Regions from separate parts of the Homo sapiens genome. Here region 1 is linked to region 2. Evidence: fine-mapped expression QTL. A gene starts in region 2. The other region holds a variant in brackets. All regions are shown on one strand. Distances are between the middles of the regions.

Region 1 (5,363 bases), 110 kb after region 2:
CGGCACCAGCCACTCTGGCTGGGGAGGGGGGGAGGCCTCCTTCTGGAACTCATCAGCGCTGGCTTCTGGCCAGGCCCAAAGGAGGTGGAATACACCCTCTTCCTGCTCGTTTTCAGAGATTTGGGAGGAGTAGGTATGGAGGACAGCAGCAGCGTGCTGGAGCCGGCTACTCTCGGGTTCGTGTCGGAGCTGGGGGAGTGACTGGCTGTGCAGTTGGGCAAGTTGCCTGGTCTCCCTGAACTTCAGTGTCTGTGTTTGTAAAGTGGGCATTATGATGCTTGGCCCACGGGTGGCTGTAAGGGCATCACACAGGTGTAATTACGCAGGTGTCATGTTCTTAGCTCAATAAATGGCCTCTGTTTTTAATTGTCAAGATATGATGATGGACTTGACTTGATGGGTGGGGAGAGGCAAGACCTCCTTGCCTTTAAAGGAGTTGAAGACTTGGGAAGCAGTTGGAATGGTGAATTCTATCTTGGGCGTGTTGGCTTTGAGGGGCTGGGGAAAATCCTAGGATATTCAGAAGAAATCTAGGGACTTCTAATCATGTGGTTCACATAAATGACCCTTACTATAATATCTATCTCAGAGTCAACTTTTCAAGACACCAGCCTCCCTGCAGGCAACCCCAGTGTGGCATCAGGAGAGCGGGGTCTTGGGTCAGCATGGCCAGCCCAGCCTCTGGCTTTGCTTGTGTCATTGGTGACTCCCCGTGGTCCTCGGTGCCTTCCTCCGTGATGGCATTTCCCATTGGCTGGCTGGGCCTCTGCCCAGGGATCCAGCTGGGTGCCGGCCCAGCTCAGGCTCCAGAGAGGAAAGAGCCCTGGATCTGGGGCCAGTGACCTGATATTCACGCTGGCTCTGCCCCTTCCCTCTCGGTGTGGCCTGGAGAGATGTGCAGGCTCCCCGAGGGCAGGGGGGGGTAGTGAGGAGGGTTCCAGGAGATGAGGGATGTGAAAGCAGCAGCACGTGCCTGGCACACAGGGGCCCTGGTAGATGCTTGGCGGACAAGTGAGGGCAGGCAGGGGAGGGGGCAGACAGGATTCAGGGAGGCAGGCCTGGGAGGAGCCCAGGGCTCAGGGAGGGGGGTGAGGGGTCAGGCGGAGCCGGCTCAACTCCTGGCTCTGCCGCTTACTAGCAGGAAGACTCCGAGTCCGGTGCCTGCTTTGGTCACATCCATGTGTGGGTGGTGGTGATGGGAGGTTGGCCTTGGGGGCCGCTCTAATGCCTACCTCACAACATAGTGATAGGTCTAGATGGATACACAGCACCAGGGCCTGAGAGTGCTGAATAAACCTTCATTCCTCCTCTAGTAAGCACAGTAAATCCCTAGAGGGCAGTCCCCAAAGGCCTTGATTACCCCAACTGTGGAGTACAGCGAGAAGTGGAGCTTCTGGAGCCAGTGCTTTCTCTGCTCAATTTTGTGTATTCTTTCACTCGTTCATCTGAAATCTGACCCAGCCCCATGGAAACTGGCTGCAGACACCCAATGGCAGTAGGGTACCAAGGGGCAGGGGAGCAATCGGCTCCCGGTGCAGACAATGAGGGGTACACTGTCTGTAGAGGATATAGAAAAATAAATAAAGCCAACAAAAAGTCTGGTTTTTGTTATTGCTGTGTACCGGCACTTCTAAACAAGGTCAGTGATAAAACACTCCTCCTCCCGGGGGGCAGACGCTCCTGGCTCCCCCTCAGTATGCTGCTGCCTAATCGTCCTCCAGAAAGGAGCCTCGGGGGCTGTAAATATCAGGAAGGAACTCAGCAAGGCCTGGCAGAAGAAGCCAGCGATGATTTGGAGAATAAGCCCATTGATGATTGCAATAGCAGCATGGATTTGGGGCTCAGGAGACCAGGAAGGGGAGGGTGCCACACTGTGAAGTAAGGGTAAGGCAAGAGAGTGGAGGTAACTGCTGTGGGTTCTGGCTGGGAGAGGCATCGTCTAGGCCCTTTAGACGTGGTCAGGAAGAGGGTGTACTTCATCTCCCTTGGGCCTGGCAGGAAGCCAGCGCTGATGGGTTCCAGAAGGAAAGCCCCCCAGCCAGGGCAGCCGCTGCCAGCTGGTGTTGGCTGGTGTGGGTGCTGTGCCACCCCACTGTTTTGGACCGGCAGGCTGCTTGCCATCTTCCAAAGGGGACTGGCCTCTTGACAAGGGTAGGAAAGGAGCCAGGGCTGCCCTATGGGCTTGGGGGCTGGTAGGGCGTTGGGGAAGGCAGGATTCACATTTCTCTAGCCTGGACAACAAGCATGTGCGTGAGGATCAAAATGAGCACTTTTAGGGTTTTATTACTATTATTTACTAAACAAGTTTCCTTGCAGGGTTGTGGAAGGGGCCCATGCAGAAGGATCTGTCTAGAGGAGGAGGCTCCGCATGTGTACAAGGGAAGGACGTGTGCCCTTGGGACTGGCTGGGGCACGGCCCTAGGGAAGTGTGTGTGTGTGTTTGCGGGGGTGGTCTGGTCATGTGGCCCCTTCCCTGACTGAACCCCTTGCAGGGCCCCATGCCACACAGCAATGCTGCGTCCGTTGCAGAAGCAGACACCTTTGGCTCCTGCTGTGTGGGAAGCAGGTGTGCATTAGTCAAGGTGGCCTCAGTGGTCCTGGGTAGTGGGGCCCCCGCAGTGAGAAAAGCAGAGACCTCTTGGGCCCGGGGGTGTAGGAGTCACTCTCCCTGATCTGCTCCCAAATGCAGGTGCATCTGGTTCCATTTGGAGCCGGTGAGCTGGCTGATGGTGGCTGTCTGGGGCTCCTGGGGCTGAGCAGCCAGGCTAAGCTTAGCCCACAGGCACTTCCCAGAAACTGGTGGCACTGTCACAGTGTTGGCTGGATGCTGAGGAGTTGGCAGGATACAGTGCAGGAACAGCAAATAGGTTTTATCTGGGTGTCAAGTTGAAACAATTGGTACCAGCTTCCAGGAGGGCTGTGTTGGGAAGGATTCTGAGGTGTTGTCTGAGCTCAATGGGAAGAGTGCCCTGATTGATTCATGAGGTCTATCTTGGGCAGGGGAAATGGAAGAGTGGCAAGGGGTTTGCCATCCCTGGTGTAGTGGAAAAAATACAGAGAGCCTAGATTTGATCTTAGGTGAGTGGCCCCAGTTTTTTTTCTCTCTCTTTTTTTTGTTTTTTGAGACGGGGTCTGGCTGTGTTGCCTAGGCTGGAGGGCAGTGGCACAATTTCAGTTCACTGC[A/G]ACCTCCACCTCCTGGGCTCAAGCCATCTTCCCACCTCAGCTTCCCAAGTAGCTGAGACTACAGGTGCCCGCCACCATGCCCAGCTAATTTTTGTGTTTTTAGTAGAGGCGGGGTTTCACTATGTTGGTCAGGCTGGTCTTGAACTCCTGACCTCAGGTGATCCACCCGCCTCAGCCTCCCAAAGTGCTGGGATTACAGGCATGAGCCACTGCAACTGGCCCCCTAGTTTCCTCATGTCTAAAATGAGGGTAAAAATGTGGCCCTTCCAACCCGATAGCCTTATTGTGGGCGCTGAGTAAGATAGCAGAGCGAAAGCCCTTTGTAAAATATAAAAAAGCGATACAAACCCAGAGTGGGGGTTTTGTTGTTACTGAGTCTCCCAGGAACCTGGAGTGACTTCCCAATAATAACGTCTGCCCCACTGGGGACTACTCCATGGTCTGAGTGCCTGAGAGGCCTGACAGGATGTGTGACCGGCGCGATGCCCGGCACCCAGGCCTTTGACACCAAGTGTCAACGAGGTGTTTGGTCATGTTTCCAACTCTAAGTCACTTCATTTCTGTCTGACTCTCTCCCTGGCTTAAGATTTAGAGACTGTTTTCATGTCTAATGAAAGAAGGACAGAAAATCTCTCTCTAGAACCTTGTCTCTTACTCTCCATTAAAGGTAGCAAAATTGCTTTATAAAGTCTAAAAGCCTGACAAGAACGCGTACTAATAATGCATGAATTATGCAAATCTGTGTAGTCACTTGATTTGCATAATGGAGGGGCTGGAGGAGGGTTGGGGAGGGGAAGGAGTGAGGGTGAGGGCGTCTGCCCAGATCTGTGTGTAACGGGGGACATTCATTTGCTCCCTTGGGTGGAGTCCCCTTCTGCAAGCCCCTGCTGGTCCCGAGGGTGTGTTCTTTGGCCTTCCCCTGCTGGCCTGGTGTCTGCCCTTTGTGGCCTGGCTGTGCAGCCCCCCCTCCTACTTTCGGGGCAGTCACCGAGGCAGGGGCACCGCACCCTGTGCTGGACTCTTGTGTAGAACTGGCTTCATTAAATCTCACAGCCGCCCCTCCATGTCCAGACAGCCTTCCCTGAAAGTCCCCTGGGTCATTATTTCTCCAAACGTCTGTCTTGCTGAGGCATTGGACTTCGTTAAGTGCCGTCTGGAATTGTAACTATTGCCAAGTGCCTTTTTCTTGGGTTCTGTGGGAAGCAAGGGTGAGAAGGAGTCTCCGGGAGAGAACTCCCCACCTACCCCGCCTGGTTTCTCTCTCAGCGTTTCTCACTGTTGCTTTAAAAGGTTTCAGCCTCTGCTGTAAGGGGCCTCTTGCTTTTCTCTCCCAGCCTCCCTGCATACTCGCTAACCTTGGGACTTCAGATTTGATGAGGGGCCGGGCGCAGTGGCTCACACTTGTAATCCCTGCACTTTGGGAGGCCGAGGTGGGAGACTTGCTTGAGGCCAGGACAACATAGCCAGACCCCATCTCTATTAAAAAAAATATTTGATGAGGGCTGAGGCTGGGACTGAGGATACTTGAGGCTTGAGCTCAGTGGGTGCTGCCTGGAAGCCCGGGGATGTGGGCTCTCAAGCTGAAGGGACGCTGGGAACCAGCTGTGGAGAGCCAGGCAGCTGGCTTTTTTGTCTAGAACCTGGATGGGGCAGCTTCTTGTTCTGGGGAGGGGAACTGTTCTGCAGGGTGGATGGATGCAGGGAGCCAGCCCTGGTTGGGAGGTGGGAGGGGCAGGGACCATATCTAGCTCCTGGAGAGGCCAAGCAGACCGTCAAGGCTACAAACAGGCTGGGGTTCAGCTTATTTCAACATACTTCTTCAGCATCTATGTCTATGGGCTGGGCTTGTGCTAGGCCCTAGGTGTCAGAGATATGAAGGCACTCATAGCTGTCATTTATTGAGCTCCTATTATAAGTGTCAGGTCCTTCGCTAAGCCACTTATTTACACGTGTCATCTCATGTAATGTGTATGACAACTTTATGAGGTCACTACTCTTACTGCCCCATTTTATAGATGAGTAAGTTGAGGCTTGGTCACATGGCGAGGAAGTGGCAAAGTGGGGCTCTAAGTGAGGTCTTCGGACTCCAAAGCCCCTTCTGCAGACCGTGATGCTTTGCTGCCTCTGTTGAGTCAAACCGGACTCTTCCCTTGAGGCCCTGATGGTAACAGCAGTGTAAA
Region 2 (5,302 bases):
AGAAATGGTTCCACCGTGAGTGCACAGGCATGACTGAGAGCGCCTATGGGCTGCTGACCACTGAAGCTTCTGCCGTCTGGGCCTGCGATCTCTGCCTCAAGACCAAGGAGATCCAGTCTGTCTACATCCGTGAGGGCATGGGGCAGCTGGTGGCTGCTAACGATGGGTGACGCTGGTGAAGTGGCCCAGGGAAGTGCACATGTCTCTCCCTGCTCTTCCAGGGTGATTTTTTTGATGTTTGGCTCTTGGTCCTTGTTTCCACTGGCTTTCCATCCCCATGGGGCAGAAACAGTGGCTCCTGGGAGCAGAAAAGGAATTGAGGTGGGCAGGCAGAAGAGCCTGGATTGCTCACTGTTTTGGGAAACTTACATGTTGAGATCTACAGAGATCCAGGAAACCAAAGCCCTGCTGAGCAGAGCCATTTTGTGGCTATTTCTGGAGGCCCAGGAGTGTGGCTGCAAGAGAAAAGGGGCTGGAGGAAGATCCGGAGGGCAGGGGTGTTCCCTCTGCTGATGATGGATGCCCCTAACACCTGTGCCTAACACCCCTACTGAACCCCACAGCTCCAGCCTTAGTTTTTGGAGTCAAGTGTTAAAGGTTTCTGGCCAGAGGAATTGGGGTCTTGCCATCCCTGCAATAGCCCTTTTATGGGCTCTGGGAGACAGCTTTAGGGAATAAATGGGGATTTTCCCCTTTTTCTACCCACTCCTTTGCTTCCTCCAAGACTTACCCAACTCCTTCCCCCTCAGAGAACCAAATAGCCTGAGGAAGCAGGAGAGTTCCTGGTTATGGCAGTTTCTTGGTGATTTGGGGCTTCAAGACAGTAGGTGAGAGATGCTGTCAGGACGTATCTTCTTCATACCAAAGTCACTGGTCCTTTCTCAGCCTCTCTCGTGCTTTTCTCCTAATGACCATATTTTTGCCAAAAATTGGGATATGTTATCTGACAGACCAGAATATTTGAAGTTTGGGCTGTCCTGAAAGTCTGGACTTTGGTGGTACCCTCCTCCCCCAGCCCATCTGTTGCACATTATACTCCGTGTGTTCTTCAACTTTCGGCGCCCTTATTCCCCTGCCTTCCTGGCTTGATTGAAGGAAAGCTTGAAAAGGCGCAGAGCCCTATACCTCATTTCCTCCATGATAAAAGGATCCAAGTGAGGCCCTGTCACAGCCTGTGGGTAGGGGATGCGGCGGGATCCTCATTGCCATGGTACTCAAAGGTAGAAGAGCCTGGAGTTTGTTGCTTCTCTTTGCTATTCTTTCATATCCTCTTGGGCCTGGTGATTAATTAGCAATTCTCATTCCTCTCAGCCAAAGGCCTGCACTGGGCTTTATTTGTCTTTTTTTATTTTTTAAGCACTGCCTGCCAGAGATGGGCCTGGGGCCTGATGAGGACCTTAGCGCTGCTCGTTCTCCTTTTCTGTTCATGCACACATTCCTCCATGGGGTGGGGAAGGCAGGCATGGGGTGTGGCCCTCGGAGAAGTTAGGAGTCCCCCAGCTCAAGATACAGTGGCAAAGACCTAGTGGTCCCCTACCCCCACTTCTCTCAGTTCCTGGCATGAGGAGAGAAGACCCTGCTCTGGTGGAGCTGACAACCTTTGAGGCTGGGAGGAGAGCAGCCTCTGGGCATCGTTCCCAGTGTCCCTCACACTAAAACGGCGTAGATGGCAACCCCCCACCCCCACCCCGCTGCTCAACTCTTGTGTTTGTTGTTCTGTTTGCCCCATTTATCTGTTGCTGTTTTTGTGTTGTCTTCCCCTGCTCCGCATTTTGTAAAATGGCCCCTGGGGGAGTGTTTTTGCTGGATCTGCTCCCTCTCGCTCTCTCACTCCACTACTTTTTGGAACAAAGTGATGGCAGAATGCGGTGGTGGTGGGGGTCTTTTGTACTGTTGGATTAATAAAATGATTTTAAAATCCCAGACAAGGACTCCTTGCTGTTGCTGTGTGAAAAGGCTGGAATGAGCCGCTGTCACTGCTGGGTAGGGTGCTTAGGGGTTGAGGATATGTATGCTCCCCAGGGTCCCTGGGAGTGGGAATGGCAGATTTGGCCCCTGAGCTGACCCTGGTATAAGCTGCTGAGCCAAGGGAGGCCTGTGTTTCCCCGCCCATCCCCCTGTGTCTCCACTGTGAGAAACTGAGTTTCCTTTTTGAGCATATTCCTGGGCCAGGCCTGGAGCCAGGCGGATTTGGCACCACAGCCTCTGGAAGACAAGTGCTTGAGCTCTTCTGGGTTTAGCACCCCACCCACCTCCCAGTTGTTTGGGTTAGGGAGCAAGTGTCGCTCTAAGGGTGAGGGGAGGGGCTGCTTCTGTCCTAGCAAATTTCATTTTGGGATGTTTTTCAGATCGTTCCCGTCCCCCAACCGTTTTTTAAAGTAGCAATGGCATCTTTTAAGCAGTCTGTTTTGGAGCAGATTGGGGAGAATGGCAGGAGGGCTATTTCCACACCCTGGATTTGCGACCTGTCCCTCTCCCTTCCCCCATCTCACAGCTGTCTCTGTCTATCCTGGGGCCAACCTGGCCCCTTGTCTTCGTCATCTCAGAAGACGGCACCGTCTGCTTTTCTCTCAGTTTGTGGGGGTTCCCTCTAGAAACTGTTTAGACACTGGGAAAGAAGGGCAGGAAACTCAGGATTCGGTTAGCTGGGACCCCGGTCGCCCACCAGGAGGTAAGCCCAGGTTTAGGGCCGTGTCGCTAGACCTCCCTTCCCCTCCCCTGGCTCTCAATTCCTGCTCTTATTGGCCAAAAGTTTCCGCCCCCTTGGGGAAGTTGACTTTTCATTGGTCAGTTTCTGGTCACATGATTTTCTTCTCGGGCTGCAAACAAAGGGAAGCCTGCAACAAGTTAAGCTGAAGACCGAAGCAAGAGCTGGTTCAGGTAATGCCTTAGCTGGGAAGGGGTCCACAGATTCGCTTTGAAGGGGGTGGAATAAGGAAAAGGGAAGGCGGAACTAATCTAGAAGGAATGAGCTGCTTTTCATTTCTGGGCTGGGGGAGGAAGGCCAGGTGCCGACGCTAACACAACAGGAACTTGCTCTGGGTACCCCAGGCAAGTGGCCCTAGATCCTTTGCTTTAGCGGTTTGGAGGAGCAACTGTTAGAGGAGTTTAAATTAACTAGAGGCGAGACTTCCTAGCTTTATGCTGAGTGGGAGAGCTCCCCCTTTAGCTGTTTTTTAGAAATAGCAGAAGTCTCTGTCATAATCCTTACAGGAGGTGTTTGTTGAATCCTGCCTGAATGAAAAGAAGGGGGTGGAGGGAGGGAGTGGAGGTGGGTTTTCTTCCAGAAGGTCGATGAAAAGAAAAAGATCTGGAAACACAGCAGGGAAGGGTGGAGATTAGACAGCAGAAGGAACTTCCTAATAAGGCAGTGAGATGCTGGCTTGGGAGAAGAGGTGTTTTTTTGAACCCTGGGTTAACCTAACCAAGAAAGAGGTATCAGGGTTTGGAACCCAGAGTATAGGAGTTTCAGAGTGTCTCCTATTTGGGTCTCATAAGTATTTGTTTTGTTGACCCAAATACCTTTGCTGGTTTCCATGGAGACAGTGGGTCTGACATCACTGTGGTTGCCATGGTGCCTGGTTCTAGAGGACCTGAGCAGGCTGCACACACAGCTAGGGATAAACAGGGACTTCAGCCCAAGCTGCTGCCACTTCCTTCCTGCCACCACCTGTTAACAGTCAGCAACTGGGGATGGGGAGATGATAACAAGGGCGGGGGTGGAGCCACAAGCGGAAGGCTGAACAGCCATGGCTCTATGGATACTTACAGATGCATGCCAGGGTGTCCTGTTGGATTTGGTACAGGGAGGTCATTGCAGCCATTCTCCTGTCTCCGTGTGGAATGGGTGCATGTGTCTGGGAGGATGGGCATTGGGAAAGACCTATCCAGGACTTGGATCTTGACTGGCAGGAGCCACAGGAGGTTACTTAGGGCACCACGCAGGACTTGAAAACAGCTCAAACAGAAGGGGATAATGTGGTTGGTTTCAAAGGTAGAACTGCCATACTCTCCCAGCCTCACTTCCCTTTTCCTGAGTTTTCTTATAAAGTGCTCGGGAAGCAGTCATTTATCCTGTTCTGAGGGATCACAATCCAGTACTCTTGAGAGGTCAGCTCATCTATCCTTCCACCTTTATGCCTGGTCCCAACAGGAGCTGCCTGAGGGAACTGTTTTAGCCTTGGATGAAGGGGCGGATCCCTCTCTTCTTACCCTGCTTTGTGTCAGTCAGGCTTTGGAAACTGGAGTGATTCCCTCCCCTATCCCTGTCAAGTCAGAGCAGATTAACCGGGTGCAGGACCATAGCCCTGATTTTTGTCTATTTTTTGCAAGCTATAAAGTGATGTATATATACATGATAGTTGCCATAAATCCATTTTCCCAGTCACCTTCAAGTTCCCTAAGACCAAACTCTGGCGATTACTAAGAAGGTAAACAGAATTTAGGATGAAGACTGAGAGTGATGAGGAGACTTATAAAAGGTGCATCCAGGTGGATCTAAGCTATGCCAGTGGCTCTTAACCCTGGCTGCGCATGAGAATCATTTGAGTGGTTTTTTAAAAGACCCACAGCCGGGCCTACCCCCCAACTCAATTGAATCAAAATCTTAGGTGATTCCAATGTGCAGCCAAGATTGAGAACCACTGAACTAGACCATACCAAGGACTTATGCTGGGCAAGTGGTGGGACACTTAGGGCTGAAGGAGGCCATTGAGTCTTCCCTTCCAGGTCCTGGGGGAGAAGGTAGTGATTGTGTAGGTACCTGGTGTTGTGAAGGGAGGGCTGTGTTGTTTCCCTGCTCTTCTTATTAACAAGTCTTCTTATTGGCAAGTTGAGTCTGTCAACCTTGCTGGGCTTCATCTTCCCTGACTCAAATGTCAGGGGGCTGGACTGGAATTCCCCAGAGCCTTTCCAGCCTATGCTACTTTGACCTTTCAAGGTCAGTTCAGTTTTCCAAGGCCCTGTTGGTCCCTGGAAGAGGCTGGCTTCTCTGTGGGTGTTGGCAGATTCTGATTTGCAAGGCAAATACTGCTTAGAAGAGCTGGGGTGTCAGGGAGAGAAGGACTGGAACCAGGCTTGGTTCTGGAGGCTGCTGCCCAGCACTTGAACCTTGGAACCCAGCCAAGGCTGCTTTCTGCATTCTGCCCCTCCTGAAGGGAGCTCCCATCCTTAAGAGAGCTTTCTTCTGCAGGTGGCAGCCACAGCAGCCTCAGGGACCTCAGCAACTATGGCCTCCTGCCCAGACTCTGATAATAGCTGGGTGCTTGCTGGCTCCGAGGTAGGAAGAGCGGGCCTGGGAACC

What was found. PIP is the estimated chance that this variant, and not a neighbour inherited with it, causes the effect.
Region 1: its variant is the best candidate, but not a certain one, in a credible set for the expression of PBXIP1 in whole blood (TOPMed, PIP 0.54).

Annotation. Positions count from the first base shown.
Region 1 is chr1:154,842,765-154,848,127 of GRCh38, reverse strand. The region is part of intron 1 of KCNN3 (potassium calcium-activated channel subfamily N member 3); the gene reads left to right. Among named protein-coding and RNA genes, the nearest start is that of KCNN3, 25 kb to the left of the region's middle. RefSeq lists enhancers at 2,284-2,343, 2,664-2,723. The variant A/G (reference allele first, on the strand shown) is at 3,184.
Region 2 is chr1:154,953,647-154,958,948 of GRCh38, reverse strand. PBXIP1 (PBX homeobox interacting protein 1) reads left to right here and starts at 2,850. Exons shown (of 11, transcript NM_020524.4): 1 at 2,850-2,880; 2 at 5,192-5,278. The coding sequence starts at 5,228. It overlaps PYGO2 (pygopus family PHD finger 2), which reads left to right. Exons shown (of 3, transcript NM_138300.4): 3 at 1-1,923. The coding sequence ends at 170.